Regions from separate parts of the Homo sapiens genome. Here region 1 is linked to region 2. Evidence: fine-mapped QTL for protein levels in blood plasma. Region 2 holds a variant in brackets. A gene starts in the other region. All regions are shown on their reverse strands.

Region 1 (16,452 bases), not on the chromosome of region 2:
TCTGAGACTTCCCAACGAGATGTTTTCCACTCCACGAATACAAGAATCAAAGCTTAAAAGACGAAGCCTGGGCTCAAAATTAAGTGCAGGAGTCGCCAGGCTGATGAAACAATGAGCCTGGGAGAATATGGAGACCCTAGCAGTGGGACCCTGGAAACAGCATTATCCGAGGGGCAGGTCGAGATGAATGGCCCACAGGAGACCAAGAATAAACCAGGAGTCAGGTTTCACAGAGGAAGAAGAGATCATGGTCTTGTTGCATGGCATTAAAAAGCTCCAGGAGCATAAAGACTGAAAGGTATCTACTGGCTTTAGCAATTAGGAGGTCCCTGGTGACCTAGGCAAGAACAATCCCAGAGTGTAGGGAGAGCAACAGTTCCGGTAGACTGAAGAGTGGATACAACCATCTCACTGCAATTCAGCATGACCCATAAAAGACAATCACCATCATTCAGAGATGCACACTGATACTTGCCGAGGCTGAGGACTTAGCCAGCTTGCTCATGCCAGGATGTTCAGAGCAGTGTCTTGTGTTTTTGTTTGTTGTTGTTGTTGCTTTTTGAGACGGAGTCTAACTCTGTGGCCCAGGCTGGAGTGCAGTGGCGCGATCTCGGCTCACTGCAACCTCCGCCCTCCGAGTTCAAGTGATTCTCCTGCCTCAGCCTCCCAAGTAGCTGGGATTACAGGAGCCTGCCACCATGCCCGGCTAATTTTTTGTATTTTTAGTAGAGACGGGACTTCACCATCTTGGCCAGGCTGGTCTTGAACTCCTGACCTCGTTATCCACCCACCTCGGCCTCTCACAGTACTGGGATTACAGGCGTGATCCACCGTGCTCGGCCACAGAGCAGTGTCTTAACACCAGGTCTTCAGGCTCCAGGGCCAGATATCCAGCCAGCCATCCTGCCTCTTTCTATCTGTTAGGTATGCCAAAGGTTGGAAATGCAGGTGTTCTCTGGACATTTCTAAACCCTTACTGACCATCATCTTTTTTTTTTTTTTTTTTTTTTTGAGACAGAGTCTTGCTCTGTCTCCAAGGCTGGAGTGCAGTGGCGCAATGTCAGCTCACTGCAGGCTCTGCCTCCTGGGTTCACACCATTCTCCTGCCTCAGCCTCCTGAGTAGCTGGGACTACAGGCGCACGCCGCCACATCTGGCTAATTTTTTGTATTTTTAGTAGAGACGGGGTTTCACCGTGTTAGCCAGGTTGGTCTCGATCTCCTGACCTCGTGATTTGCCCACCTCAGCCTCCCAAAGTGCTGGGATTACAGGCGTGAGCCACTGCGCCCAGCCATACTAGGACATCTTATGCTTCAGACCCACTGGCTAGAGGTTTTGTTTAAACAGAATGAGGAGTTTAGGAAAGTTTCTGGCAACAGAGACTAGTTACACACTTGAATCCCATTTTCTGCTCCTGGACACACAAAAACACTGCACTCCCCACCCTTACAGCAGTCAGCCTGGAGGCATGTGAGTAGATGCTAGCCAACTGAAGTGGTGTGCCACTGCTGGGCCTGGTCCTGAGCATCCCATGTGCTCATCCAAGCCTTTGCTCCTGTCTGACCTGAGAAGAGGCAGATGGTGGGGCCACAGGCTGGAAGGAGTTTGGGTTTCTGAGTCACTGCTGGCAGGAGAACCATCTGGAAAAGCCACCTAGCCCGCATCAGATGTGACATGAGCAAGAAACGAGCTATGATTGTATTATGCCACCGAGACTTCAGGGTTCCTGTGTTACTGCCACACTGTTGGCCTGTGCAGATGGATGTTGCTGGTAAGATCACTGATTCAAAGGCACAGGACAACAGCACAGCAGGCTTGGGCTCCATGCTCATGGGCAGGGGGGAATGGAAGTAGAAGTTTCCACATACTCTCTCCCAGTCAGTGAATCCCCTAGATCCCGTCTGGGGTATGTATTTCATTGTTGAAGTCCATGGCGCATACCGTTAATGGGCCTGCTTAATGAGGCCAGTGTCCTGGTGGCCACTCACCTATCTGGAGCCTTTCTTATTTACTTTGAGCTGCTCCCAAGGAGTGTGGTTGGACATTACCAGCCACCTTGAAGGCATGAGTAGAGGAGAGCTCTCTAGTGTCCAGCCCAGTTTGGGATTGTGAGAAACTGTGCTGGACTTAAACGTACATCCCTGCACCTGGGGTGTAAAGATCCCTAAACTGTGTGGCTTAGGGTGGAACCAAGACCCAGACTCAGACCTTCCTGGGGTTCAAACCTGGTCAACACCAGAAGCCTGGCACCTATCCCCACTGTTAGGCAGCAGGGAACTCTCACTCTTCACTCCCTCTTCCCAAATCAGAATCTTTCCAGTTAGTCAACACTTCATTTCCTTGGGGAATCATTTTATACTATGAATGATACCCCAGCAGAACTGATATGAAAGCTAAAATTGCCATAAAGCAGACTTTCTTAAACCTTGCTTATCTAGAAAAGAATAAATTGCATATCCCAATTTTTCATAATGAGAAACTGCAAATTAATTAGTCTTTATTAATAAGGCCTGGCTACAGTGGCTGAAAGACATGAGGGTTTATTCTTTCCCATGAATGAGGCAGGTAATTTGGGCCTGGTGGGGCAGCTGCACAAGGGGTTGGAGCTCCTTCCGTCCTACTCTGATGTCTACCCAGCTGTCATGTTCACACTCCAGGTGGCAGCAAAGGGGACGCATGGAAAGGGGCAGAACAGCTTCCTCCCAGATGAGTTGGCAGCCTTTTTGGAAGTCTCTGACACCTGCTGTGGCTCATTGGACAGTTCTGAAGCACGCGGCAACATCTAACTGCAAGGGAAGCTAAGAAATGCAACCATTTAGCCAGGCATATTGCTCTGAGCAGAGCTGGGAGATTCCTGCTGGAGAAGGGAGGCTGGGAAGAGGTGGCAGGCAGCAGCTCTGCCAGCCAGGGTGAATTCCTGTTAAAATGCCTGTTTATTCCCATTTTGGCTTTCTTTTGCTGACCACAGCTTTGGGGATCTTTGGACAATGGGTTCATATCCATAGCAGGTGAAGAGTAAGGGAGAACTAACATGCCCCCTGCAAGAACACATTAGCCCTTGTAAATCAATCGTTCCTCTGCCTTACAGATTACCTGCAAAATGTTGTAATAGGTGTGATTTTTAATTTCATTAATTTGGCCAGGCACACCTGTATTCCCAGCAACTTGGGAAGCCAAGGTGGGAGGATCACTTGAGCATAGGAGTTTGAGGCTGCAGTGAGCCGCAGTCTCACTACTTCACTCCAGCACAGGTGATGGAGCAAGACCCTGTCTCTAGAAAAAAATCCATTGATTAATAAATACTAATAAATAAAACCCAATGCGGCCGGGCACGGTGGCTCATGCCTGTAATCCCAGCACTTTGGGAGACCGAGGCGGGTGGATCACGAGGTCAGGAGATCGAGACCATCCTGGCTAACATGGTGAAACCTCATCTCTACTAAAAATACAAAAAAATTAGCCAGGCGTGGTGGCGGGCGCCTGTAGTCCCTGCTACTCGGGAGGCTGAGGCAGGAGAATGGCGTGAACCCGGGAGGTGGAGCTTGCAGTGAGCCGAGATTGCACCACTGCACTCCGGCCTGGGCGACAGAGCGAGACTCTGTCTCAAAAAAAAAAAAAAAAAGATATATATATATATATATATATATATATATATATAACCCAATGCACAGATAATTTTTTATGTTTATACTATGGACCCATACTTCCCTGCTTTTAGATATCCACTGGTTAATAGCATGATAATCCCATGACCCCATAATCCCCTTTCCCCGGAGCCATGATTTATGATAGAAATATGTACTTGCCTATTGGAAGGATGAATTTGTTGATTTTCAAATGAAGATATCAATATTTCATATTTCTAAACTCAGTTTTCTCCCCTCTTAATTTTTCTGGTATAGTGCAAATAGGTTTTATAATACTCTTGTGGTTTCCTTTATTAGAAAAACATAGTGATGTGTACTGTTGAGCTAAATGACAATATTACAGATCGTAAAAAAGATTTAGTATTTGAACCTTTGCACTATTCAAGCTCGTAAAGCCATTCTCAGCGAGGATCAATTTCAATTATGTTTTCACTGCTTACATAATGGAGGTGGTGGGGGCCGTCTCAAACCCTGGCTGGGGAGCAGAGAGAGCTTAGGCCACGGGAGAGGGCATGCCTTTGCCCTGCACGAAGCTCCTGGCCTGAAGCTTTCCTTCATCCATGGAGGTGGTTCATTATGGTCCTTCCTTTATGTGACCAGAGTCATTATTGACAGCTGTGTTCCAAATCCAGCTTGCATTTTTAATAAGGTGTCCATGGGGGGAATCCTGGGCAAATGGGAAGTGCTGTGGTCTGGGTGTCTGTGTCTCCCCTGAAATTCATATATTGAAATCCTAAGCTCCTAGGTGATGGTATTTGGAGGTGGGGTCTTTGGGAGGTGATTAGGTCATGGAGGCTAGAGATGGAGCCTCATGAATGGGATTAGTGCCCTTGTAAATGACACCCCAGACAGCGGCCTCACCCCATCTGCCATGGGAGATGACCAGACACTGGGTCTGCTGGGCACCTTGATCTCGGACTTCCCAGCCTCCAGAACTGGGAGAAACAAATGTCTGTTGTTGAGGCCTCCCAGCCTACAATATTTTTGTTATAGCAGCCCAAGCTAAGGCAGGTAGCCAAAGGAAAGCCAGGCTTTTGTTTAATCAGTAGCAGGGGGTCAGTGTTCAAAGTTTAGTTAAATAACTAAATGCAGAATCTCATTCTCCAATAGGGTACAATCAACGCAAAGCCCAGCTCTTTCCTCTGCCTTTGACCTGGAGCTGTCCCATCTGAATTTATGCTGGGGGAGGACAGATCACCCAAGCTTGACAATGGTTCACATAGCATTTCATCTCCCGGTATCTAGGTGACACCCTAAAGGCCCTCCCTCTGTGCAAATACTCCCCCAGACTTAGTCTCTCCCTTTCCTCATTTTGCTAAGGATAGTGGCCCATTTTACTTCTAAAACAAGTTTCCATCATTTTCAAATCATGATATACTTGGAATAGAATCCATACCCTTTTGTCCAGCCCCCACGTGGAATGTGGTCTCTACCACCCTTCCTGGGCTGGGCTCAGCTGCCTCCCAGGCCAGCTCCCTGCTTTGTGGCCACAGTTTCCTGTCAGTTTCCTCAGCACACCTGGCTCTGGGCCCCACAGGACCTTTGTACAAGACCTTTGGTCCATCTGAAACACCTTCTGCCCAACTCTGCAGGACTGCCTTCTTCCTTCGCAAGTCTTGGTCAACTTTCCTTCTCAACAACCAAAGCACCGCCCCTCACACCCCCTTACCCCCACATCAGCTTGCTGGTGTCCGCCGTATCACCCAATTCCATTCTCATATTTTAGGCACATTTGCAAGCCTAGGAAGGTGTGGTTCCTAAGAGAGACTTTAAATCACAAATATTTATATTCCTGTTTTTTCTGCCTATGGAACTGTGACCACATGAGTAGCGGGTGCTCTGAGATGATACTTTAAAAACTAGCTGGCCAGTGCTGAGGAGGGCAGAGCCCTGTGAGGTTACCACTGACAGAGCTGGGGACAAACGCATTTTAGGAAAGCAAAGAAGCCAGGCCAGGTCAGTCCTGGGAGCCACTGTGCCACGAGGCAGGGGCAACGTTCTTCCAGAAAACAGTCCCAGTTGTGGGACAAATTTGAAGCTGCAAACTCTACACTATAGACAGAACTGTGATCATTTTATTCTGAATAACTTAGTGGGTGTCACCATGAGCATAAAAACATTTCATCAAATATACACACACTGTGTTAGGATTTGAGCAATGTCATTTCCTGGAAGGTTTTCTGAGATAGACTTCACCTGCAGGTAACCAGAAGTTTACTTGCTGTGGTGAGTTGTTAGGTGAAACCAATTATATGTCAGGGCCCAGCTGCCAGACAGGAGCATCTTGCTTTTGGAGTGTTTGATTCCCCTGCCACTTTTTGAGACAGTAATTAGTAGCAGGAAACTGTCACCAGCCAACTGATAATCCCCTCACATACAAACACAAATAATCCAGGCATCCTGTGCACCCTTGCTTATCACGGCCAAGAAGTACTTTTCATCTCCATTTCATAACTTGATTACTCTATGCCTCCCCAAACAGAGCATAAGCTTCTTGAGGCCAGCGATTTTGACTGTTGTTCTCATTGTGATCTACCCAGCAACTGGAACAGTACCGGCACGTAGAAGACGTGACGTGCATTTGCTGCATGAATAAACACATGAACATGATGGCATAGGAGAATGCTACTTTGATGGGGTACATGGGTATCAAGGATTTTCTTTCTGCTCACACAACATGAGATTTGTAATTAAGACACAGATTTAAGGTGAGTCCGGTGGCTCACACCTGTAGTCCCAGCACTTTGGGAGGCTGAGGCAGGAGGATCACTTGAAGTCAGGAGTTCGAGACCAGCCTGGCCAACATGGTGAAACTCTGTCTCTACTAAAAATACAAAAATTAGATGGGAGCAGTGGCACATGTCTGTAATCCCAGCTCCTCGGGAGGCTGAGAATCGCTTAAACCTGGGAGGCAGAGGTTCCAGTGGGCCAAGATCACGCTACTGCACTCCAGTCTGGGCGAGAGAGCAAGACTCTGTCTCACCAAAAAAATAAAAGACACAAATTTAAAATCACGATGACCAGAATATGGCTCTGTTTCACTCACTGGAAATTATCTGATCTGCAAGATAATTCTTACCAACCCCTGAGTGTTTTTTACAGGGATGGGAGTCCATTGACTCTCTAAAATCACTTGCGAAGTTTTGTTGCTGCGGAGCTGAGAGCTGGGGCCAGCCTGCCTGTTGTGCCCCTCCATAAGACTCCTGGCCATGCATTTGAGCACACCTCATGAAGGGGGCAGGTGGCTGGCCGGGCTGTTATGTGTAGCAAGCATGTGTTCTAAATTACAATTCATTTGTTCTAAATTACATTCATCATTTCTAAATTTGTTCTAAATTTAGAACACAGCCCCAGGAGACCCCCTTCACCCAACCATGTTCTGCAGTCTTGATTCATTTTCTTACTTAAAAAATGCTATTGATAACCTGTTGCTATTTCTGCCTCAGTCTCTTAGGAAATGTATAAAACAGAAAATCACATATCTTCAAAGCTCTGGAGCTTTACATGATGAAGATAAGCAATGATTTCTCATTTCATTCTTTCTCTTAATCAACTGAATTAATTATATACTCATTTTCATTTGGATATGATGACTAGGCAGACTTCAAGTATAACCATCCATAACCTTGCTTAATGCCATGATGTTTGGATTTTTTTCAAAGAGAGGAAAAAACTCCCTTGGCTTCTATTACAGCATCCATATTTTGTGCCATTTTAATTTTTTCTTGTGTCTTTTTTCTCTCTCTTTGGGAAATATCAGTATCATTCCTTTTGGTAAATTTTAAATCACCACTTAATTTCCAATAGAAAAAATGTTTTAGTTACACCTAAAATAATCCCAAACCTCAAACACACTGTGAGCACACCAGAAAGTAAAAATTATATGGAGTAGAACAGATTAGCCCAGAATACCTCCCATTCATTTTCCCAGGTTCCTAATTTAATAATTTCAGTGACTTTAATTTATCACAGACCCTCAGTCTGAACTCGGCATGAGCAGGGTAGACAACCAAACCTGAAAATTCAAGTTAAAATTCTTGTTTGGGAGCTTATATTATCTAGATTAATCATCCACAAGGATCAAGTCAGCTAAGTAACTCTGGTTCAGCTTAATCTCTGTGGAGGCAGAATTAGTCCTTTACAGTCTAGGTCCTTGCCCCAGCCCCATACATTTCTGTCTGCTTTTTTCTTTTCTTTTCTTTTCTGTTTTGAGACAGATTCTCGCTCTGTTGCCCAGGCTGGAGTGCAGTGGCACAATCTCGGCTCACTGCAACTTCCATCTCCTGGGTTCGAACAATTCTCCTGCTTTAGCCTCCACACATGCCACCACCGGCTAATTTTTGTATATTTTTTTTTTTTTTTTTTTTTGAGACGGAGTCTCGCTCTGTCACCCAGGCCGGACTGCGGACTGCAGTGGCGCAATCTCGGCTCACTGCAAGCTCCGCTTCCCGGGTTCACGCCATTCTCCTGCCTCAGCCTCCCGAGTAGCTGGGACTACAGGCGCCCGCCACCACGCCCGGCTAATTTTTTGTATTTTTAGTAGAGACGGGGTTTCACCTTGTTAGCCAGGATGGTCTCGATCTCCTGACCTCATGATCCACCCGCCTCGGCCTCCCAAAGTGCTGGGATTACAGGCGTGAGCCACCGCGCCCGGCCTAATTTTTGTATTTTTAGTAGGGACGGAGTTTCACCATGTTGGCCAGGCTGATCCCAAACTCCTGACCTCAAGTGATCTGCCCGCCTCAGCCTCCAAAGTGCTGGGGTTACAGGTGTGAGCCACGGAGCCCAGACTGTTTCTTTCTTAAGCTCTTACTTTCTCATGTGTGAGTTACCTTGTAGGTTTCCAAGGCAGAGGGGACAAGATGGAAAAGGAGAACACAGAAATCTAGCCTGGAGGAGCTGCTCTGTTCCTGTATTTATCTGTGTAGGTGTGAATGAGGGAGAAAATGACAAGAGAATGACATTATTTTAAGGCTGTTTTCCCCCCCCCAATCATTTACTTTTTGAGAAATAATTGCCCAATACTGAAAGGTATGTCCTTTCAAAATGTTGATGTTTCAAATGGCTTCCTAATTACCTAGTTATACGGGGGGTGTGTATGGTTATCTGAAGTTACATGGGTATACACTGGTGGTGTGAGGTGTCCAGAGAGAGGAAAGGAAGAGCAGTCCTGGTGGCTCAAACCCTGAGGGATGTGCGGGGGATGGGTGAGAATGTGAACAGACATGTTGGAAGCTGAATCCGTGCAGTGGCACCCATGCCTGTAGCCATCTCAGTGGGGGGTCCTTCTACGAACAAGCTTTGATTAATGATATTTTAATGCTAGTTTAGCTTTTTAGCACTCCCACGCCTAAAGGCTCTGATAGAAGCAAGGCCCCCACCCCTGCAAAAAAAAAAATCCATGATTTTTACGCATTCCAACAGATCTCTTAAGGGGCAGACGGCCGGAGAGCCAGGTGTGCCAGGGACCTATGGCAGCAGGGCTGAACGTGCCCGCTCCAGCCTCTCCAGTGCTGGGAGAGACCTCTAGATGGTGCAGGTGAGTTTGCAATGAGGGAAAGCCCCTCGGCAAGGACTGAGTTTCCAAACTTGCAGACAGGGCAGGGAGCGGTCAAGGAAGAGTTCCCGGGAAGCCCTTTAAACGGAAAGGAAGCGGGGCTAGTGTCAGAGAGGTGTGCCAGGTCCCAGGCAGCCCTGCTGGCCCCTAAGGACATAGAGTACCTGCTTCTGAGAGGGCTGCCACGGTGGCCACCTGTGAAGCCTGTCACCCAGAACTGGATGGTACCTGACTTTCTTCATAGACCCATCTTCTGCTGGGACTGAAGCTGACCTCCAACAGAAGCCAGGTAAGCCCTGGTCCTTTCCTCTGGTTTTCTAAACTCTTCAGCTGTGGCCGAGACGGAGGTGTCATGGGCTGGGAGAGAGGCTGGGTGCATTTTTGAAATGCATGTCATTTTTGGGTTGCGTTTGAACAAGCTTTACCGATTGCAGTATGTCTGCGCTACCAGTTCTAAGACCTGAGATTGTTCCTTTGTTTTAGAAAAACATCAGAAACCCTGTTTTGCTGTTGGTTGCACATTTGGTTAGGGAGACAAATTCTGTGTGTGCTTCACAGGCTTTAAGATTTGGGCTACTGAAGCAACGGGTTCCTCCAGGGAGCGTGAAAAGTATGTTTCTCAGGTTTGCCCCTGTGCCCGGCTCACTGGGGAAGGCAGGCGCGGCAGGGACTCTAGCTGGGCTCTGTACCTGCCTCCAACTCTGCGTACCCGCTGTGACCTAAGAGACCTTCCAAGTGGGGTTTCCAGTCGTGTCTGAGACCCCCCATATCCTGGCCTCTGTGTTGGTGGCGGGGGAGCGGGGAGAGGGAGAGAAGGAGGGGAGTGGGTACCTATTTGTGATGATTGAGGTTTTCATTTCCAGCCAAGAGGTTCCTCTCAACACTCTGACAGACCGTGGGGTGGGTTGGGCTCCTAGACAGGAGTCGGCTCTGATTCAGTCGGCTCTGATTCCCAGCCTCCTGCAGCAGCCAAGCTTTGAGATGTCAGCTCAGGGAGAAGCGGGTGGCTGGGCAGGGAGGTCAGCAGGCGAGGTTCCCACTGGGTTTCCCTGCCCATGTTGTGCTGGGTCAGCAACAAGAGGGACAGTTAAAATCAACAAGCAGGGCAGATGCCGGTCAGTGGGCAATCCCACACAGCCAGGGGTACACGCATGTGAGGAGACGTACGGAGAGACAGGAGCACCACCGTCCTCTTCCCCAGTCCCCAGGCCACTGCTCTGTGGCTCTCAAGTGGCATTTTTGAGACACTTTCTAAGCAAGAGTGAAAGTGTAACAAAGAAGTGAAGAGCCATAATAGACTGAAGGAAAAAAGGGATCCAGGCATCTAAAATAGAGAATGTTTCTTGCCTGGCTTAATACTCTGAGATTTGTAAGTCATAGCCACTTAAAACCTTTAAAGATACATTTTGACAGAGGCCACCAAAAAGAGAGTGACTCTGGTCAAGGCTTGGAAATAAGCGTTCGTTCCGATGACAGTCCACGTGTACCCTTCACGGCTGGGAAAGTTTGGCGATCCTGGTGGCGATTGGCCGGGGGTCTCCACTGTACCCCTCCCCATCCCTAAGTGGGCCAGGCTGTGCTGTGGGAGGATTAATTTGTGACAGCACAGTTGGAGGATAATCTTGGAAGGACCAGTCTTTGGGAGGAAAAAGTAAATACACTTTCCCTGAAATGCTTGATTTTCACTCCCTGGCCACTACCTGGTTTCTTGCTTTTGTGAGCTGGACTTTCATTTTGTTGGGCATACACATTTGTGAAGCACAGACATGTCAGGGGCTCATCTTTGTTTCTCAGGCATCATGGTACCCTCTTGCCTAGCCCAGTGCCTGCCATTGGGCGGCAGCCCAACATTGCTCCGGAGTGCAGACAGACCTGGTCTTACCCCATCTCACGGAGCGCAAAACCTACTTGCCTCTGTTAAATGGGGAGCCTCTTCTAGTCAAAGTTCCTCAGGTCTCATAGGCCCACAGATGGAAGCTGGGTTACCTGACGCTCCTTTCTGGGTCCAAGTGAGTGCGTTTTGTGGTTTCCAAAGAATAGAATTTATTCTCAAGGAAATGCCCAGGAACCCAGCTTCAAAGACTCAAGCAAATCTGAAATTCAAATACAGGAGCTGTAAACAGGATGGTGTTTGGCAGACAGCCTTGCTGCTTAAGTGGCTCAGCCCCTCAGCTGGGCTCAGTTTCCCCTCACCCTCCTCCTAGCCTGCCTAGTGACTGCCTGCATGCCTCAATTATCCTGGATGACACCTGCCTGCTCGTTCCTTTGATGCTGTTTGAGGCTCTGCCTAGGTATTCCACCCACCAATAGTATCATTAATTAACTTACATTAAGCCCACTTAGCACATTAGATCAATTAGGGGACAAAAGCCCCAGCCAGCCTTTCCTGTGAGTATGCCGCCTCCATCTCAATGCCTACGATTCTGTCCTTACTGAATTCGTATATTGCAGGAAGGAATTTTTTTTAAGTCCCAAAGATTACTATTTTCCTAAAAAATAAAGCAAGGAAACATAAGCTGATGTCTAATCATTTAACCTCTGCTGTACATTTCTATGGCACTTTACAAAGCGTTGTCATGAATGTCTTCTCTATTTTCCCAATAAGGAAATTGAGGCTCAGAGAGGTTCACTGTCTTGCCCGAAGTCCCACAGCTCATAATGATTATGGGAACACCAAGAACTGGTCTAGGTTAGCACTCAGTATGCCCAGGCCTCGTGTGGAGCCTGTCACTCATAATTGGAGGGGCTGAGACTAGAACCTGTGTCCTCTGCCTCCAACACTGACACATTTGCCCCCACAAGGAGATGGTGCAATGACAGCCACCAGGGATTATAAAAATAAGAGTGGAGTAAGCAAACACTCCCCCTCCTGTATCTTAGTTTCCCAGGGTCGTGTCAGCCCCAGACACACTCATCTCCTGTCCTCAGAGGCGAGGGATCAAGAGGAAACAGTCTCAGTTTTGTTCTTTGTGAACCCTCCTGATAAAAGTTAGAGTGTTTGTAGTTTTTATATAGTGAAAAAAACTGTCAAATATAGGCCATTGTAGGTGGTTCAGTCTAAGATAGTCTAGTAACTAAAAAAAAACTCAAAATGGCATTTGGGGCTCAGGCATCCCAACAGCCCACTGGCCCCTGAGACAAATGAGCTTGACCATATTTAATTTTTCATCATTGCCCTTAGAGTGTCACAAAGCATTACCCAAGGATAGCTGACCCTGTACAGTCAAAGCTATGAAAAAAGCTTTGCCCTGGGTCTTGGCAGGGATCAGCCATTCATTAGGTCATGTATTAAGGGATCCTACAACCTGAAGTGTCTTCAGTCATAGCACACCCCAAGGACATCATGCACTCCATGAAAATATGTCCAATGAATGAATGAATGAATGGGCTCCTTCATCCTTCTTGTCAGAGAAAGGTCACCAATTGTTCCAATGACACAGTTAGGGACAAGGGGGCTGCTCAAACATCAGCATCCCCTAAGTCAATAAGCAAACAAATCCTAGTTAGCAAAGCTACCCTCTCTGGGGGCAGAGACACCTGTTATTTCTCAAATGCTGGATGCCCAAGGGTGGCAAACACACTGTTTGGACCCCAGGAAGGAGCAGACACATGTGGGTGAAGCTGGAGGTCCTGCTTCCTTGCCCAGATCCTCTTGCCCAGACACACTCTGGAAATGCCCATCATTTTATACACCTACGTACACATGTAACCAGCCAGGATGCCTTTGTTTTCCATTTCCGAGAAAACAGAGGACTATGGAAAACAGGTGGGCCGTAAGGAGCCCTACAGAGGAAGATGCACCTGTGGCGGTAGCCCTGCCTGCACCACCCTGCGAGCTCATGCCAGCTTAACTCACTTCACGGTCAATCAGACCTACTGCTCCAAACACAGTAGGAAGGCGCGCCTTCACTTGTGAGTCGGACGAAATCAGCAATGAGGGCAATAACAACCACAGTCACGTTACTCTTAGTAACAGCCCTGAGGCCCGCAGTGTAGCACAGAAGCCAAGCTTAGTGGTGGGCTTAAGGCTGATGTTGTTAACTGATACCATTCAATAGCTAGATATAGGCAACTAAAAGGTGAGCCCAAATACTGAAATAAGATACAGTATTAGTCTCCTGAAAATAAAAAAGAGTTGATTCTGCCAACAACACCTTAATCCTGAGAGAAAGCACTTTCTTAGGATAGAAGAAAGACATGCAAAACCAGACTGCAAGCAAAAAATGAGAGGGCATGCACTGTTTTGACGACTCTCAGATGGTTACCAAATCTCTTCTCTTAAAACTTCCATTTGCCATATTTCCAATCCCATGTTTGCACAGAATCCTGCATGCACAGGAGGAAGCAGGCAGGATTTCAAGTTGGTTTTAGTGCACATTCATTCATTCAGCAAATGTTTTCTGGGCATCTGCTACATGCCAGGCACCATGCTGGGATGTAGTGAGTAACACAGTGGTCCCATGGGTGAGGAGAGAGAACATCCCTGCACTCACAGAGCTTAGATTCTGCTGCAGGGAGAGAAGCTATAATGCATAAATCCAGCGCCATGAAAAAAAAACAAACAAACTAGCAGGGCAGGTAGAAAGAAGGTGCCCAGGGTAGTAGTGGGGGCCTCTTGGGAAATGAAATAGTTGAGTAAAGACCTGGATGAAGTGAGGGAGTGAACCAGGACACCCGCAAGAAAGGAGGCCCTGGGGTGGGGTGAGCTGGAGATGTCCCAGCACCAGCAGGAAGGCCATGCTGCCGGAGCAGAGGGAAAGGAGGGTTGAACAGAAGGAGAGGAGAGGAGAACCAGGAGCCTGAGCGGGCCGTGGCAAGGGGGCTGGGCTCTCATTGAGGGTGATGGAAAGGCAAACAGAAGTCAAGTCAGGGCGGAAGTTCAGCCATGGTGGCTCACGCCCTGTGTTGTTCTGGGACAGTCAGTGCCCACACCACCCCATCCCATGCCACGCCGGTTGCTGTAATTTGCTTCTAAGGAGCTGGGTCTCCAAGTAGCCTCTTCCTGGGAGAGTTGGCTTGGCTGAGGTGCAGGGCAGGAAGGGCAGGCAGCAGGAAGGGTGGCAGGAGAGGAATGATCCATTTTCACCAACACCTGCTCCCTTGGCCGTTAACACATGCCAAAGGGATCCATTCTGAGAAAAATTATGAAGACCCTAACCTGAAACACATGATTACACTTCCAAAAATCTGAAAGTAGATTATCAAGACTCAATAAGTTGTGCAGAGAAAGAACACTTAGCAACAGACATCGCCGTCGCCCCCCTTGCAGCCCTGCTGGGACACTCCCACAGTCGCAGAGCCACTGGCCAGCTGCACTCGCTTCCTCCTCACTTGGAGAGAGGGACACCTTCCAGCATCGGGTGTGAGATGGAGTGGGGACGCAGTGGCTCTCTGATGGCTCAGTTGGCAAAATTGTTGGAGAACGGGTTCAGAGATCACTGATGCCCTTGGCCAGCATGCCAGACCTGTTCCTGTTGACTCCATATGGCCTTTGGAGTTGGAGAGAAGGTGGCTTCCCTGCCCCGTCCCGCACGGAGCCACCAGCACCTGGAAAGTTTGATTTCCTTCCTCGTATCTGGAAGATGCAGGTCGATTAGGAGGGAAGTCAGTCTGGAGGAGGATACCTGTCTCTGGGAACTCCAGGGCAGTCAAGGCAGACAGATGGATCACGAGGGAGGAGCTGGAAGGGCGGGATTGTTGACTTGATGTCTGGTTGGGGTCTGATGAATACAGGAAAGTGGAAGGCCACGGGGAATGCTCCAGTGGGATGCAGATGTCTATTAAGTTGGCTGATTTTATTTACCCAGTTAGATGTGGTTTTATGGTTTACTGTTTGGATTGAGGCTCTGTGTCCTTGGGTAATAAACATTACCTCTGGCCCCAAAAAATCCTAATCCTTAAAAATATGGAAATGCACTGAGCATCCCTAAAAGGTACTTTAGAGGAGTCTCAAGGTTCATTTTCTTTAAGATTTAGTCCTTAATAAAGACTCAAAATGGCTGTTCCTAAAGCCTCCTGTCCATAATGAAGAAGATAAATCAGAGTGTACACTTTGGGGATGTGTTTGTTGACATGCGGCATCCTCTGCAGAAAGCCTGTATCTCCAAGAAGCGTGGCCAAGGGAGGGCACTGACAGCTGAGTTTAGAGTGGGATTTGTAAGCAGCACAAACTAATTGTGCATCGGTAGATTTGCAGAGTGTGGTTTTCTGTTGATGGATTTCTTTATGGGCAATAAAATCTCCAATAAGTACCATTTACATTCAGCAGAACTCTTTTTGAATTTTAGCTCATTCTTAGAGAGATTTGGAGAGAGAGAGACCATCCCTGCACATGCAGCAGGCACCTGGCCTGTCTGGGTGGCCAGTCCTTGTTCTGTGGCCACTGTGAACCCCGCCAATGTCCTAGTTTCCCGCCAGCACTCACTAAGCAATTTTGCTTCTCATTTTACGGGCAGACGTAACCAAAGCAAGGAGACTTAGGTGACTCGGGACACTCGGTTTTGAGTCAATTCTAAAAACCAGGAGACCAAACTTTCTCTAGAATTACTGCCAGTTGGTTTCCAAATTGAGGTTTCCAGATGAAAATTATTATCCAAACAGACCACACACAGCACTCTGACTTGCCTTCTGTGCCTGGCATGTGCGAGGGAAATGGCGCTGGAGAATATTATCCTGATGATTATCACAGTTGTTGCTTTTGAAGGCAAATATTTATTTTGTGAAGATTGCAAAATGAAGTACAACAGAATGTTGAGCTCCTCCTTATGTTTACAGAATAAACAGAACTGAGACACTGGCAAACGCCAATGTCCCTAGTTCTTAAAGGACTGGCTGCATGCCTCCCACGGCATCAGTTAAAGCAGGAGCCTCTGGAGATGGAGGCCTTTGGTGGCAGGACAGCCTCCCACCAGGGAGGGTCTGAGGCTTCCACCCACCTCCCTGGGTTCATCTCTGTAAACAGCTCTCCCAGTGTGGGCTGGATGGGGTTTGAGGTGGCTGCTTTCCTGTTTACCCTGGAACATTTCTTTGTTAGAGAGGCCACTGCATTTGCTGTAAGACAACGGGCTCTAGATCTTTCTCAAGGCTTTGGGAGATCTAATAGAAATAAAAGACCTGGCCCCTATTCTCATGGCCTAAAGCATTGAAAGGAGGAAATAGGAGAGATAGCCAAATTGCATGGTGCTGTTACTGAGCCGTTAAACATCTGTCCCTGCCGTTGCACTGACTGTGCCCTCTTTGAGGACGGGAA
Region 2 (15,600 bases):
ACTTCTGCCTCCCGGGTTCAAGCAATTCTCCTGCCTCAGCCTCCCAAGCAGCTGGGATTACAGGTGCCCACCACCATGCCCAGCTAATTTTTTGTATTTTTAGTAGAGACAGGGTTTCACTATGTTGGTCAGGCTCGTCTCAAACTCCTGACCTCGTGATCTGCCCACCTTGGCGTCCCAGAGTCCTGGAATGATTACAGGCATGAACATGCCTGGCCTGCAATTTTAGAGATACTAAAAGAGAGGCTGAAGAAGTTGAAGCAACTTTCTCACTATTACATAACTAGAAGCAGACTCCCTCAAGGGTGTAACATCAGAAGGCTATGGTCTAGCAGGAAACTGTGGATGAAACTGATTGCTCATGAGGCCAAGTGTTTTCCTTTTTGCTGAGAGGAAGCTTGTAGTTTACTGGGCCCTAGGAAGAAAACTTCCTACCTCATTATGGCAGTTTACCATGTTCAGCCCATCACCTTCCCTGTGAAAGGCCATGGGAGACAGGAAGTTTGTGAAAACAGATGACTGGCACTTCTTCCTAGGTACGGGTGATTCGAGAGTTGAATTATGAGAGCCATGAACCTCGGTTATCACCTGGACCACACACAAAAAATTTTGGGGGCGAGAATAATTAGAGAAGTGCTGGTCTGCACCCCACTACGCATAAAAACACACTGTCTCAATTACTTATCTTGTCATTGCAATGGAATATTTTTCATAAATGAAACCAAATTCAGTGAATTTACATCTTACTGAGAGCTTAGGTTCTACAGTGAGCAGGTAATTGAAAATCAAGTATAATCAAATTTTTCCTCTGCTCAGCTCTGCTCTTGAACCATCCAGTGTTGGAATGGACCACCGTGGCTTCGGCCGAGCACCAGAGGAAGTGGTATATTTGCATTCAGAGGATGCATGGTGTGAAAAATACACATCTTTAAACCCGAGAGTCACACTTGATGGAACACGATACTCATAGTACAAAAGGCATTTGAACACTGATTCCTTTTGAGGAAACAGATGATTCGTGTTTCCGTCTCATGCTCTTTCCTGGGTAAAGGCTCATTCATTCTCCCTCCCTCTTTCTCTCTCATCCATACTCCCTGCCTTCCGTTTCCCTCTGTTTGTAATAGTTGTAAGTCTTGAACGTGTATATGTTGTGACTTCACTGTGTTTTCCAAGATTAAAATTCAGCAAAATATATTTTATGAAGACTTTTATAATGACCTTCTTGAAATCTTCCAACACTGATTACCAAGGAGATTATATACGGACAATGATAAACAGTTTTATGGTAATTTCTCCAGGGACGACAACCACCACCACATTTTTTAAAAGTTACGTAGCTAAAACACTTAGTGAGTCATTTAAATTTAATTAATCAACACTTTTTTTGAGAAATTTTGAACCTCGCCAGCTCTTGTAGAATGGATGTGGGGTGGAGGAATATAAAATTGTATAAGGCACAATGTAATATTAGACAAAAGTATGAGTTTAAAATGTTAAACCTGTAGTCATTTCAATCACCTTCCTAGGCTCATCATTTCAATGTTCTCCACATCATGATCCAGCTCTATGGTTTATTTATAAATTGGCAGTCCAGATTATATGTGGAGAGAAATTATGTGTGAATCAGGGTGCATATTTTTCTTTCCTCTTTAAGTATTTCCATTCATGTCCCTTCTGGCATCCCCCCCTTCTAGTTGTAGGGCACTGTGTTAGCAAACTTGGATTTGTTTTCCAGCCAAGAACTACATAGAAAACACAAATACCTTTGAGAATCTGCTTCTTGGAAGTTGACCAGTACTTAATTCTGGATTCTATAGACAGGCTATATTAAGATTTTATTTGAAGTTGAAGAATTTACTCAACAACATTTACAGAAAGATATTTTCAAAGCTACAGTTGAAATCAATGTCCATATTTTCACAATGATATAGAGATTGTATTGGTACTTTAATTGCTATTGGAATATTTTGACATTTTACCATTTGATATGTATCATAAGATGTGACACTCACTAAATGGATTATAAACTAAACATACTTTTCTGGCTCTGTAGTGTTGTTACTTTATTTTTTAAGTGTTTGGCTACAGTCATTGAAATAGTGAAATGAAATTTTAGGATTTCCAATGTAGAGAAAGGATAAATGTTTCATGAAATCATTGATAATGACTTAACACATTCATTGTTTCTTAACGCTGTAACAGACATCATAACCAAGTATAAGTAATATGCAGCATCCACCATCAGAGATTTGGGGTGGGGCAATTATTCTGAGGCCAGAATTGCCTGACTAAGCCTTCTTCCTTCCTTTAGTATACACCTTTTTAGGTGTACTTTCAATAGAAGCAAGCACGTTCAATAGAACACAAATTAATCACAGCCATTAGTGTTCTTTGCAGAGAAGACTGTGTGGTCGCTCCTATGAAATGTTCTGTTTCTCAGGATGAGTTAATTCATCTGGAACAACATTAGTTCATCAAGGTTTGTGGTTTATCTAAAGATCAAATTCCTGTAATTTTGTATGCCATCTGATTTAATGTCCAGTTAGTTTCGTGGTTAGACAGTCATGGGCAGGCATAACACATGAATCTAATATCAAAAACTGGAAAAAAGGTGAATTCTTAAAGGTTTAATTCAGGCATCCTTAGATGGAGATTGCACTGCTGCTTTTCTTTCTCCTAGGGAAATGCATATCTAGATAATGCCAAATCTTATTAAGAAAAGTCTAAATAATATAAAACATTGCATGTGAATATGCCCATGGTAAAAATCTCTGCTTTGGAAGGACTTTTAATGGAGGAGGATAGGAAGAAGTGGGTTGATCTTGAAATGAGATTGTATATATTCCTTTGGAAGGTTCTCAGGCCGTGTACTCAAATACAATTGTAATAGTTTACAGGCAAAGGATCGATTGGCTAGAGTTTACTGATAACCTACTTTCTTTGTGATCTTTATAGACTTTCCAAATGCTTTCAATTTGAATAAAATGTGGAAGCTTCATTTTGTCTTTATTTATTTATGACTGTTTTGTGGGGACTTTTTTTTATCAAGAGTTGAGAACAGTCAGTTGATAGAAAAATATATGTATGGGGAATATTTATGCTTTTCTGAAACAAAGTAATATAAAACTTTATTTACAAAATTGTTTTCCTTAGGTGTTCCAGTGGAAGAGGAGAGAGGCTTTCACATAAGTTTAATTACCTACGATGATGCCTGGTCGAATAAGCCAAATAGGTCTCTTTACTAAAGGATTTCCTAGACTTTTAGAGTTTTAGACTTAAGTGTATTTAGCACATTGGTGCTCATTGTGAAGCTCCAAGAGGGAGCTATCTTTATCCATTGGGTGAAGTTAGCTCTCTGAGTTGACCTCAGAGCCAATTTCCAGGGAATATCTGATAATAACTTTTCTAATAACCAATTAGAAAATGCTGGTGTGAAGGATGTTTCCTGCCATCAAACAGTATACAGGTAGATTGGCTGATCACAGAAATATCCCAAACTATTTTAAGAATAATGACTAATTAGTGAATGCTTTTAATATTACATACTGTAAAAATTTCAAGAAAGAGGGCCTGGAAGGCTTTGCAGGAGCTTGATGAATGGAACTATCACTTTGCCTACTTGATCTATTGTTTCATCTCCTGAACGCTGTCAGTGTCAGAGGTAAGAGAAGTGAAGGACCTACCTCAGCACAGTTGAAGGGCCAAGAGCTTCTATTCATATTTCCAGTTGTTAACCAGTGCTAAAGATTTGTGTAGAGGAAACAAGCAGGAAATGGGCCTAGAAAGACGATAAATTTGACATCAAATTGTAAAAGAGGAGATTGCATTTTGGATTAGGGGCTTTATTTTCTAGCAAATTGGGATCCATTGGAGTTTTTGTTAGTGCGGTTTTTCTTCTGTTTTTTGCTCTTTACCTTTTGTTTTTAGGTAAAGCAAAGCATTGTTATAACTTTGTTATTTTAGGAAGACTAATGTTTGGTGTAAAAATGCCACAAAAACTCAGGCCTAAAAGGACAATAGCCTTCACTAGACCAGTGCCAGTGGGAAAATGAGCACCCTGTAGAAACAGTTTAACAGACCAACTGAACCAATGACTATTTATTGGGGACAAGGGAAGGAGAGGAGTCCAAGATACTGTCCAGGATTTGTGCCCAGAGAAAGGAGAGAGATGGTAAAGAAATGGAAACATGGGGTAAGGCAAGTATGGCAATATTGTGCTATCTGGAGAGGCAGCAGTGGTAGGAATTCCTTTCTAAATCCCTGAAAAAGAATCATCACTGCATCAACTGATTCCTAAGGGGGAATAGTGTTAAGTAACCAACTTTGCTTGGATGTAAATAAAGTAATTCCCCATACATTTAGCCATAATTAATTTATTCTTACAAAAAGTCTCAAAGACAGTTTAGTTTATGATGGAAAGCTGTTATTGAAGATATCAGTAGGAACAAAACTTGATTCCGTCCTTAAAAATCTTACAATGGTCCTTAGGAGGACAAGAGCATTAAAGACACACCTGTAAGTAAGGAAGAACTGGCTATAAACCAGGAGAGAAGCACAGATAATTTGGGTTGAAGGATGGAAAGGTCAAGCCTGGGTGGTAAAAATCAGCAGACATAAAAAATGGTTGGTTTAGAAGTATAGATAAGATTTTATCTATGATAACCAAGGCAAAATAAATTATAGGCTGAGCAATAATAATGATAGCAATTAAAATTATAATAGCAATACCAATAATAATAGCTATTTTCTATTGACTATATCCTATATCCTCTTCATGATTCTAAGTGATTTACCTACATTGCCTCATTGAATTCTCAAAAAAAATGGAATGAATTTATACTGAATTGTTAGGCAATCGGAACTCACTGAAAAACTGTGAGCAAGGGAATAAGTAACAGCAGATGGTTGAGAGGATTAACATCAAGGACTTTAAACTGGTGGGAGAGTGAATGGTGGTCAGAGGATCTGGCAGGAGATCATTGCAATAATTCAGACTAGAGGTAACAGGCATCCAAATTAGGCATTCAAACTAGGTGAGAATGGAAGTCAAGGAAGGACCTGATCCATTTTTTTTTCAACAAACATCTACTAAATACTTGATGTCATGCATTATGGTAGACTCTGGGCAACAGGGGCAAAAAAGATAGACCCAATTCCTGCCCTCTTGGTACTTAAAGTCTGTCTACCAGGAGACATTGTAGAGAATAAATTTCCTGGCCTTGGTAACAAATATTGACCTAAAACTAGTCCAAGATGTGTGTGTGTGTGTTCCTACCCTCGTTTTTAGGGCTCTGGAACTCAATGGTATTCCACCTTTGCTGCAGAATACTCTCTCTTACTGACTGGCAGAGAACACAGTGGGTAGAACAGAACAAACTCAGCTGCAAGCCAGACAGAGACGGACATCTTCATGGGTAGCACAGCTTGAGAGAAAAAAAACACTTTTCTTAAAATTCTTCCCTTCCAAGGTCAGGGTAAGGATTAGGGCAACTGACACTGGAATGGAAGAAAGAGGAAACAAAACTACTTACACTTTGCTGTTCCCCAAAGTATAGGCCAGACTATCTTCCTCATTGTGCATGTATGTAAGTTTACTGTAACCCGTTACACAAACACAAATACTGTGAAACTTATAGTATTTTGACCTGTTCCCATGAACTCAGGGCAGTTCACACTCACGTTACCCAATTTATTTTCCCAACACTCGTAATAGTCTGATATTATGAAACTGTCATGGAAACCAACTCAAAGGTTAAGTGACTTACCCAAAGGTACACAGCTAGGCGTGGAGAGAGGAGGAAAATCAAGCTTCCAACAAACTTTCCCCACAAGATTATGAGTCTAAAAGCACTCTTAGATGGTGTATCTAAAGCTCGAGGGAAGAATCTGATCCTGGAGTTATTGCATAATGTGCTAAATACTATATTGAAAGATTGAATTAATTAAAATTAATAAAATAATGAAAAATGAATTCCTTATAGAGTTGAGGTTTTTTCCAAAAGCACTTACTACCTCACTAATTTAGTCCGAAGTTAAAAAGAATGAGGGATTTCACCTTTTGAGACTAATGATAATCGTAAGCAAAGTTATCTTTTATAAAATAAAAAGATAATAGTAAATTTTTCCTAGTGATATAAAACAACCAGTTGTCTGAACAACCAGATTGATATGTTATGCATTTTTTGTGACTGTCTCAGTTTTTGTATTTATTTTTTCATCATTTATTTCTTGAATATATCTTGTAATAAATACACATCAAAGAGTTAAACATCCCTACTTTTGGGAAATATTTCTCTATTGTCTCTATTTTGCTACCAAAGTTTTACAGTATTTTATTAACATTTTTATTTTATCATAATATTTTCATTTAAACTTGGTATAAATTTGTTGCTGTGCATTAACCACTCAGCATCATAGCTTAGGACTGAAACACATCAAAATAGTCCAGCAAAAAATATTTTAAATATGGCAACCTTAACTGGAGTTTAAAAAATAAAACTTTGAGTATAATAATTTATTCACCAGAGCGGTTGTTTCAGCAAAGTACTTCATCTTAGTTTCCAAAGAGCTGCTAGTTGTTACTAAATATATTTTAAAATAGAAGCAAAAAAGAAATCTGCTCTCATTCTGGCCAAATATACTATAAAATATTAAACTGTTAAAATCTTTGGCATTTTGGAGAAAGATCAGCTAGGTGATTATGCTTGTATAGTTAATTAATAAGAAAGGAAGTAGGTAATGGTTCACTGGGGAAACTTTTGTTATCACCATGTCTATTTATGAAGGATCCCATGCTGTAGGGACAATAACGGGGTGCTAATTCTGAACGCACACAGTGCCGTCCTACAAAGACATCAAGATTTGTAGGAAATCAACCCTCCAGCAGTCCTGGCAAGCCAGACTGACCCCAGCAAATGAAAATAATCAAAAGTAATTAGAAGCGTGCTGGACTACTCCTCGGAGAGCCGAATAGGAGAGTAAACATGCCTGAATCCTCGAGCCACTGCAAAGGCCCATGTCTGAGCTGTTAGGTGCCCTGACCTTGTCCACATAAAGATGTGATTTATGAAGTGCAGGGCACAGCAGCAGGGCTTCTGTCTTCTCCTGGAGAACCAAATTACTGAGGTGGAGATTAACATGCTTTCAGTCGGGCCCATTTCCAGACCAAGGGAAATTTTTTATTTAAATTTGTTTTATCTTTAATTTCCTCTTTTCTAACAGCACACCCCAATAGATAAAAAAAATAATAATTTAAAAAAAATAAAAAAAGGCAGAGTCCACCAAGAGTCACCAGTAATCTCTCTTCAGTGCAGTTGTGATATGTGTGTGGGGCTACGGACAGTCACAGCATTTTTGTTGGTAAATTTGTATTGTGCTGGACTGTTTCACTGGATCTGTCTGATCAAAGCATCACAGAATTCACATTCATGCTTAGAGAACAAAGCTTGCAAAATACTTATTAAATTAAAAAACAGAAATTATTAAAATTAAACAGAATATCACCTTAGATTTCATGGCTTTCTGATCTAGTTTATCTTGCCTAAAGGTCATGCTTCATTACAAAGTTTACTCTATTAAATAAAAAGATTTGGGAAAAGAAATTGTGGGTGGTAGAGAATTTAGAGGAGTAGGAGAAAGACAAATTGGGAGAAATATTTATATATGAATCAGTGGGAAGTCTCTTGAGTCCTAAAAGACATACTTACATTATTTCTTATCTTTGTGTCAGTTAGGTTAGGTAAGATTTTACAAAATCCTATTCTGACATGGAAAAGGAAGCATTGATTTTCTTTTTAAACACACATCAATATCTATACACGAAGCTAATTTAATTAGCAGGCACTTATTGTTCAGCCAAATGTCAATTTCTCAGATTATTTCATGCTTCTTGACATGAACTGTATGAAACAGGATTTAACAGAATCTCCATGAATAAAACTCCACTTGAGAAATGTAAAAATGCACATGTACGTTCTTGAAAAGCTACAAAAAAATAGAGTTAAAACAAAGATGTTAGGCTTGGAGTTTAGTGTATATTTAGCCACCTCAAGAAACCCAAAGCTGCAGAATTAAGGGAATTTAGACTGAGGTTATAAAGTGCCTTCCTCTATAAACTAAAAACATAATGTCAGGGTGAATGGGAACATACTTTATTAACTTTACGGTATTGAAAACTGCCAGCAAGTTGTCTTGTTTTTAAATATTGTCCTCTGCAGAGTGTTACAGTGCTGTTTGTCCACAGGAAGCCTATTAAAAGTGGACAGTGCAGTCATTTCATCTGGCTTTGGCTGGACTGCTTTTCTTTCCTTTAATGATGTGCTGGAATGTACCATGCCCATAGGGTCTCCATTAGCAGAACTTTTACTTCTGGGACGACCATGAAGTTTAAGGCTTAAAAGAGGCATCAGTTTACAGTCTTGTGGGAATCACTTGAATACTGGAGCACTAACTTCTTACTGCTTTAACTAATATATTGACTTATTTTAAATAAACAGTTACACAATGAAGGCAGAGCCAGTGGCCTTATTGGAAATCTTTGGGCTTTTTAAAGATTCTGCAATCCACACAGCTGGGGAAGGAAGGAAGGGGCCTGAGGAGGGTTTATGCCCTTTTCAAACCAGGAAGAAAACACATTAACCTCTCCCACCCCAGCCCTGCCATCAGCCAAAGGGGGATCTTTACAACTCCTAGAAAATCTATCAGCCCACACTCAACCCTCATATTTTTCCAATGCCCTTTTCCTGGTAAACAACAATTAACAGATCAAGAAAGAAAAAATAATCATTCCTTCTGGAAAAATGTTTTTAAAATCTGGTTCTCTTTTTAAACATCACTGATGAATCATTCCATTTTTTTCTTTCCCCGAAGCTATACATTTGTTTTAGTTTGTTCTCCTACTCCATCCCCTTAATATTTAGATCATCTGTCCTGATACATGTTTGCAAATTAAAGCTGGTTTGAGATTACAGTAAAACCATTATTTTTAATAGCCCATTTCAAGGGCAGTGCTAAACACTGCAGAACACGCATGTTACTGATTACTGCTGAGCAGACAGCGGCTTTTGCAGATTAATTTGTAACTGGGAACTACTGTAAACAGATTTCACCAGAAATCCCAAGGAATAAAGGGAATTGGTGATGGTATTTGGCTCCTTGTATTTATTTATTGTTTTAGAAACCTTCTGATGGAAAGCAAGCTAACAGGGGAAGAAGCAAGCCCCTTGCAAAATCCTTTTCCTCTAACCTTCTTTCCTGTTTCATTCACTTATTGGGGAAGATGGATCAGGTCTTCTAAATAATTCTTATTTAAATAGCAAGAAGACCCTTTCATGAGAAACAAGGCCAGTCTAACTACTGTGGGATTTCAGAACCCTATCTTTAAACTTTAAGTTGTGTGAAGAAAAAGTGAGATGACTCTGCCTTTACATGAAGTTATTGTTATATACCTAAAGGAGAAAGGGAGTGGGATGGGGTGGGGGAGAGGGGAGGGAGAGACAGACAGACAGACAGACAGACAGACACACACACACACACACACACACACACACACACACACACACAGAGAGAGAGAAAGAGAGATTAAGATTTAGTGTTTTGTTAGCTTCCTTTGCCCAGGTCCTTCTGATGATTTCCTTTAGTCTTTTTCACAATTTATTCAGTGGAGAACAAGACTGATGATGACGATAATGATGATATTAATATAATAATAATGATGATGCAATGAATTCTCCATTCTTCTAGGTACATCTTCCAAGGTCTCGGAGGGTAAGCGTTCACTCTTGGTTGTATTTGGGGAAGAGAAGCTCAGACGTAGGAATAGCCTTCTCTCAGGCTGATGTCTACATGCCTGGACTGCAGTGTGCCTTCCTCTCGTAGCTCGGAAGGACGCGGAACGGCGGGCGAGGCGGAAGGCAGAGCTGTGTTGCCGGCGCCTGGCGGGCAGAGGCGGGTTCACCTGGGTGGCTGGAGCCGCCGGCGCTGCGCTTTATTTCGGAGCGCAATGCCATCTACCGGCGTCCTGCCGTACCTGCAAGTATCCAGACCTTGAAAGTCGCTCCGCCTCCCCCCACCCGAAGCCAATATAGGGGAAAAAACTCGGAGGCCCTTTCCACGAAATCCTAATTTAGCCAGGACCTGCCAATGATTCCAGACGACCTTTTGTTTTCCTACCGACGTTTCCTCGTTTTGAAAGCAGTTTTGTAAAGGGCAAGGAGGTGGGGGCCGCAGGGTTGGGGCGCTGAGCTCCCAGACCCCCTGATCAGGCCGCACTGTCTGAAGCAATCGGTTCCCCAGATTACTTGTATTTAATACACAATGCATCATAAAACAAATCCCTCATCCTGACAGGAAGAAAATAGAACAGCTCATAGCTCGAGCCGGTCCAATTTATGGCTAAATTAAAAAAAAAAAAAAAAAAAAGAAAGCTCCGACAATGGGCAAGTTGAGGGAGGGCAGGAAATCAATGGCCACGAACCAGGAGCTCTTAAAGGTTCTCAAGCGCCCAACTCTACGGGAATATCTGACCGGGTTTTAGGTTATTTACAAAGGATTTTTCCTGTCCTACCTACCACTGCTGTGCGATTTTCTCTCAAACAATGGCCATTATCTGAAATAACAGTTCAATGTCACAGATAACAGGCCACCGAAACAAATTAGTCACCACCTCTTGTCATTTTCTCTCCCCCAATCCCTCCCTTTTGCTACTATTTTTGTTTTTAAATCAATATTTTGGGAAAATATAGTTCTACTGGATTTACACGTTTATTTGCACTTGGAGAAAACAAAAAGTGGGTGGCACTTGTGTTATCCCGTTTGCAGCTAAAGTTTAACCGTCAGCACACTTTCCAGCCCCTCTTGCCCCACCTCTCCCCCGCAAGTGTCCCTAGACTCGCTTACTTTGCTTAACTTTCCATTGTTGAGCTGGGGAGTTGGATTTTGTCCATTTGTTTTTATGAATGGAGTTTTGTGATAAAAACGCGTTTACTTCCATTTAGCCAGTGGGATTTACTAAATCTTACAAAGTTGGCCATGAATAAATCTGTAGACCCTTTTGTTTTGCTATGTATCCCCTGTATTCTTTCTTCCAATGTCTTTTCTACAATGTATTGGTTTAAATGTACCCAAGGTATATTAGAAAGTTATTAAACATAGGATAGTACCGATTACTAAAAGCAGCATTTATGATGTTAAACGTTCAAAAATAATCTGAGTCGTCAAATTGCTTATTGCACGTTTTGGCGTTCAAGGTGTTTTAATTAATGTATCAAAGAAAATGGCAAAGACTCACCAGACAGTCATCAATCTCTCTAAACCCATAATATGCTGTTTGGGCGGGTTATATGCCAATAATTTTTCAGATTTTAAAATATCTTTAAAGAAAAATATGGTTTGAAAATTTTGCACGCCCTTCCTCTGACCTAGCTACAAGAATGAAGGGAATAAATTAGAGTATGAGTTTCAATTAAAAAAATTTTTTTTAATGCTTAGCAGAAAACTGGAAATGTACATGTCAACTTTTCACTCTTGAGGTTGCTGTTTTCTGAGAATTTCTAAACTATTTATATTTAGTCTGAACTAGCGTCCCTATACCCTAAGCTTTATCCTCCCCACTCCAGCACTACCTCTCCCCCCTACCCCCGCCCCCTCCTGCCTCGGTGCACACACCCTCACACCCCTGAAAGCACTTCTCTACCCTTCCCCATCCCTCCCATCCCCCATCTCTCTCTCTCTCACACACACACATGCACACACACACTCGCGCGCACACACACACACACACACCACACTTGTGCTTTCAAGACATCGAAACGGAGGCTATTTCCCTGGGGAAAGAAATCCTGCCTGGCGAGATCTCCCCATTGGTTGTTTACCCGGAGAAATCTACATGTTTAAGGGGGATGGTGCATCCATAATCAGTCTGTCCCTATAGGACTTGGGTCTTGGCGACCTTTTTGTGACCTCTCCCGCCAGAGGAGGCTGCTGTCACTTTAAAAATTTAAAAGAGGAGCCCGTCTGGCTTCCGATCAGATCACTCTGGGCGGCGGGAGATAGCTCCCTTTCTCCCTCGCCCCGGGTTCTTTCTGGATGGCCGAGCAGATCCTCTTTAAAGAGACAGTTCATGAAATAGAAACCCGGCGGCTGAGCTTGGAGTTGCGAAAGGGGACGATCCCGTGAGGGTCCAGGACCCGCGAAGGCGCTGCGGAGGATCTGAAAGGGGGATAGAGCTCCCCTCGCCTCCCCAGGCCCCCCACCTTTTCAAACTCTCCTCCTCCTGCTTGTTTTCCCCCATTGGAACTGGGAAGGAGAAGTAGAAGTTTTAGTGGGTTTCAGATAACTTTCATTACACATCGGGCTGATAAGAGCAAGAGAAAGTGAGAAAAGAGGGAGGTGATGTGAACCAGAAGGAATAGCTCCGAGCTCATTTAGGAAGGGGGAAAAAGCCAAAACACACCAAACCCGGGTCACCCAGACGAAAGAAGACTTCATTTCTTGTATTAAAAATACACTGTTGGCGGACAATAAATCCGAAACGCGTGGTCCTGGAGAGCAGATCCTAGAGACGGACAAAGTTGTCAGAGACCCATTTGGAAATCGAGACGCGAGGCTTTTAAAAAATTATTATTATTATTTTTAAACATCTCTAAATGTTGCTCGGGATCGTTTGAAAGGATTTTCGTGCAGGAGCGTTGGGGGCTGCTGATTATTTTATTTTGTTTATTTTGATTCTTCTGTGA[A/T]TGCCTATTATTGCTGAGTTGAGGCCATAGAAATCTAAAGGTAAGAGAACTCCTCACTTTAAAAGGAAAAAAAGTCTGGGCGATGTGAAAGTTTGTCACTTCGGACAGTTTCCTGCCGGGGCACCGTTTCTACGGGCGCCCCCCGCCCCCAGCCTTCTTTCCTCCTCGCCCGCAGTCTCGCGGAGCCCTGCTGCTTATCTACGTTGCTAAGCCGGGCGATTTCCTTGTTCCTCCTGCGAAACGGTGCGGTCTGGACACGTCTCCGGGGTGGGTCGTCCGGCCTTCGGTGGGTTTCTCTGCCGGCTTGTCGGCCTCTTTTCCTTGCGCTCTTCTCCTCCTTCCCCTCCCTCCGTGTGTCTCTGTCCGTCGGTTTCGGGGACGCACAAGGTGCGGTTGCCAAAATCTGAATTCCTGGCACTGGCCACGCGACTTTGGAGCCGCTCTCGGCCGAGTTCCACCTTGCCAAGTAACAGCTTTGCTGTCCAACATCGTGTGCTGCTTCGCGAGAAAGTCACATTCGGACCCTTTGGCTAGATTGTGGGGATTTTTTTTTTTTTCCTTTTGCTGTTGGTTTTTTGAAAGGGCCTTTCTCTAAAGTCTACCTAAACGGTTTTTTTTTAAGCTATCTTTGGAGGTTGACAGCTTTTAAAAACACAGGAGTGTGTTATATGAAATGACTGAAGATGTGTCGTTACTTTATTTTATTCGAGATTTCCGACACGATTAAGACATTTGGGAGACAAATGCAGTTCTGCTAGCAAATCAAAAGTGAATAATTCACCCAGGGGGCAAACGTTTCTGGAGAAAGCTAAGCTTTTGTCTTGGGGCAAGAATATTGAGAGGAAGAATGTTAATATGATGGTGAAATCTTTGAATAATCGTATAACAGATTAGTAAAAAGACATTCTTTGGAAATGAACCTTTTTAAAAATTAATTTTGCTGTTGACAGTGGCAATGCTAATAATGTTAACACGGAATAAAATTACACCTACAATTTTTATGTGCAGTGTATGTAATACTTAACTCCCTGCCCCTGTGAAAGGGTATGCTTGAAAGCTAAGGGGATGGATGCTTCTTGACTTTGAAATTAACAAGTTTTCCACGTCTCTCTGCAAATATGAAATGGAATTAGTATTGCATTTCACTGGCTTTATTCTATGTCCTTTATTAAATATTTCTTTGGTGTGTCAGGAGAACTGCCTTTTCTTTTTCTTTTTTTCTTTTTTTTCTTTTTTTTGCCAGTCAAGGAAACAAACAACAAAAGATCAACCAGAAACCAAACAGACTGAACAAACCAACAAAACCCAGCAACAAACTCCAACTTTTTACTATTTAAAAATGTGCATTGCTATTATTTATGTACCTTCTCAACATCTGGGATGGGGGGAAATCTCAAGTTGCCATTTGAGTTACTCAGCACTGAGAGTTGAAGAAACATCTTAAAGTTTGTAATTTTATTGATAACAAATTTTTAGAATTTGTCCTCTTAATAGAAAGGATGTTTAAGTGTACACTTCTGTCGTTGTTAGTGTGAAGAGGCATCCTTGAAAAAGAAGAGTTTGATTTCTCTCTGTGTGTGTGTGTGTGTGTGTGTGTGTGTGTGTGTGTGTGTGTGTGTTTAATAATATCCCTATCTTATGTTCGATTTTTCTTTTTTAAATTTTGGGACGACTTATTGCCCTTCAATTTCCTCATGGCCAAAGGCTTATTCATAGGGCTTCTTGACTAAAGCCCTTGGAGCACTGGGTTTTTCTTGAAGTATATGGTGAGTTAATGACTTGAATCTGCAATTGGGTGATTGCCTGAATTCTATGCAAAATTGCTTTTGGTCTCAGTACTCAAGAGTTTAATTTTAACTTTTATGTGGTTATGCATACAGCAGAGATCTGTAGGAGTTATTTAATTCAATAATTTTTGTTCTAGGTATATTGCTTAGTCTTTGATAGGAAACTTCCTCGTTTGTATTAACTGATTGACATAACATTACCATCCTTTGTAGTTATTCACCATCAGGTCAACAACTCTACAGCTTTTAATATTGATGTTTAAGACATTATTGCTGTTAGTGAATCAGAATAGCTTGGTTTAAGTACACATGATCTTAAAAATGGAAGTTTCCCTCTTCAATTTTTGTTTAGTGTGTCCTAACTAATGATTAACATTTAGATGGGCCAAATGTAAAATTTCATGAAAAATAACAAGATACAAGTATACCTAATGATGGCAGTTCATTACAGTATTTTAATATATTTTTTATTTGTTCACAAGGAGCCAGCTTTATTTTGCTTACTAGACAAAATATTGAAACATGCGTTGACATGTGTTAACTAAAACCTGAGTTTGCCATACTTTGCATGAGTGTTTCCGAATTCATTATTTTAATTTGTTTTTCTTTAGTTTGTTTGGAAGCACCTATAAGACAAATCTTATTATCTCCTTCAATTAAGAGTGTGATTTAATTGTTTCATGGTAATGAGATGCTAACCATGAAAAAAAAATTTAGATGGAAGTTTTTAAATTAAAGTGCAAAAATGTGAAAATATATGCTTACATGAGACTATACGAATATGAAATATTGACTGTAATGTTTAGAAATATTATGTTAATATACGCTGTTCAATATTATTTTTTGCAAAAATCACATTGGATAAAATTAGCACTAATTTATGCATATGAAAATAAGCATTTTTGAAACCAATTAATCAGTTTTTGTAACAAATTGCAAGTGCTTTATTCCTTTTTAAAAAAGCAGTATGTTGTCATTTTCAAGGTAACTTCTCATTTCCCCTCTATTAATGTGCTTGTGATCTGACTTTTTTTAAGGATCCAAAGAAGGAATATACATTTCAATGAAATATTTTCAAA

Direction of the effects. Positions count from the first base shown, and alleles are read on the strand shown. Strength reflects both the effect of a copy and how common the allele is.
With allele A in place of T in region 2, the plasma level of the protein whose gene starts at base 9,232 in region 1 is higher (weak association).

What was found. PIP is the posterior inclusion probability: the model's chance that the variant is causal. Protein levels are from antibody-based Olink assays in UK Biobank. Linkage for the fine-mapping came from a reference panel and not from the study's own genotypes, which makes the PIPs less certain.
Region 1: EDAR starts here. The variant in region 2 is fine-mapped to the plasma level of the EDAR protein (UK Biobank, PIP 0.98).

The regions. Positions count from the first base shown.
Region 1 is chr2:108,982,000-108,998,451 of GRCh38, reverse strand. EDAR (ectodysplasin A receptor) reads left to right here and starts at 9,232. Exons shown (of 12, transcript NM_022336.4): 1 at 9,232-9,492. It also overlaps a transcript of RANBP2 not described here. RefSeq lists an enhancer at 10,258-10,759.
Region 2 is chr3:169,143,897-169,159,496 of GRCh38, reverse strand. All of the region lies in intron 2 of MECOM (MDS1 and EVI1 complex locus), which reads left to right. Among named protein-coding and RNA genes, the nearest start is that of LINC01997, 150 kb to the right of the region's middle. RefSeq lists a silencer at 9,999-10,058. The variant A/T (reference allele first, on the strand shown) is at 12,735.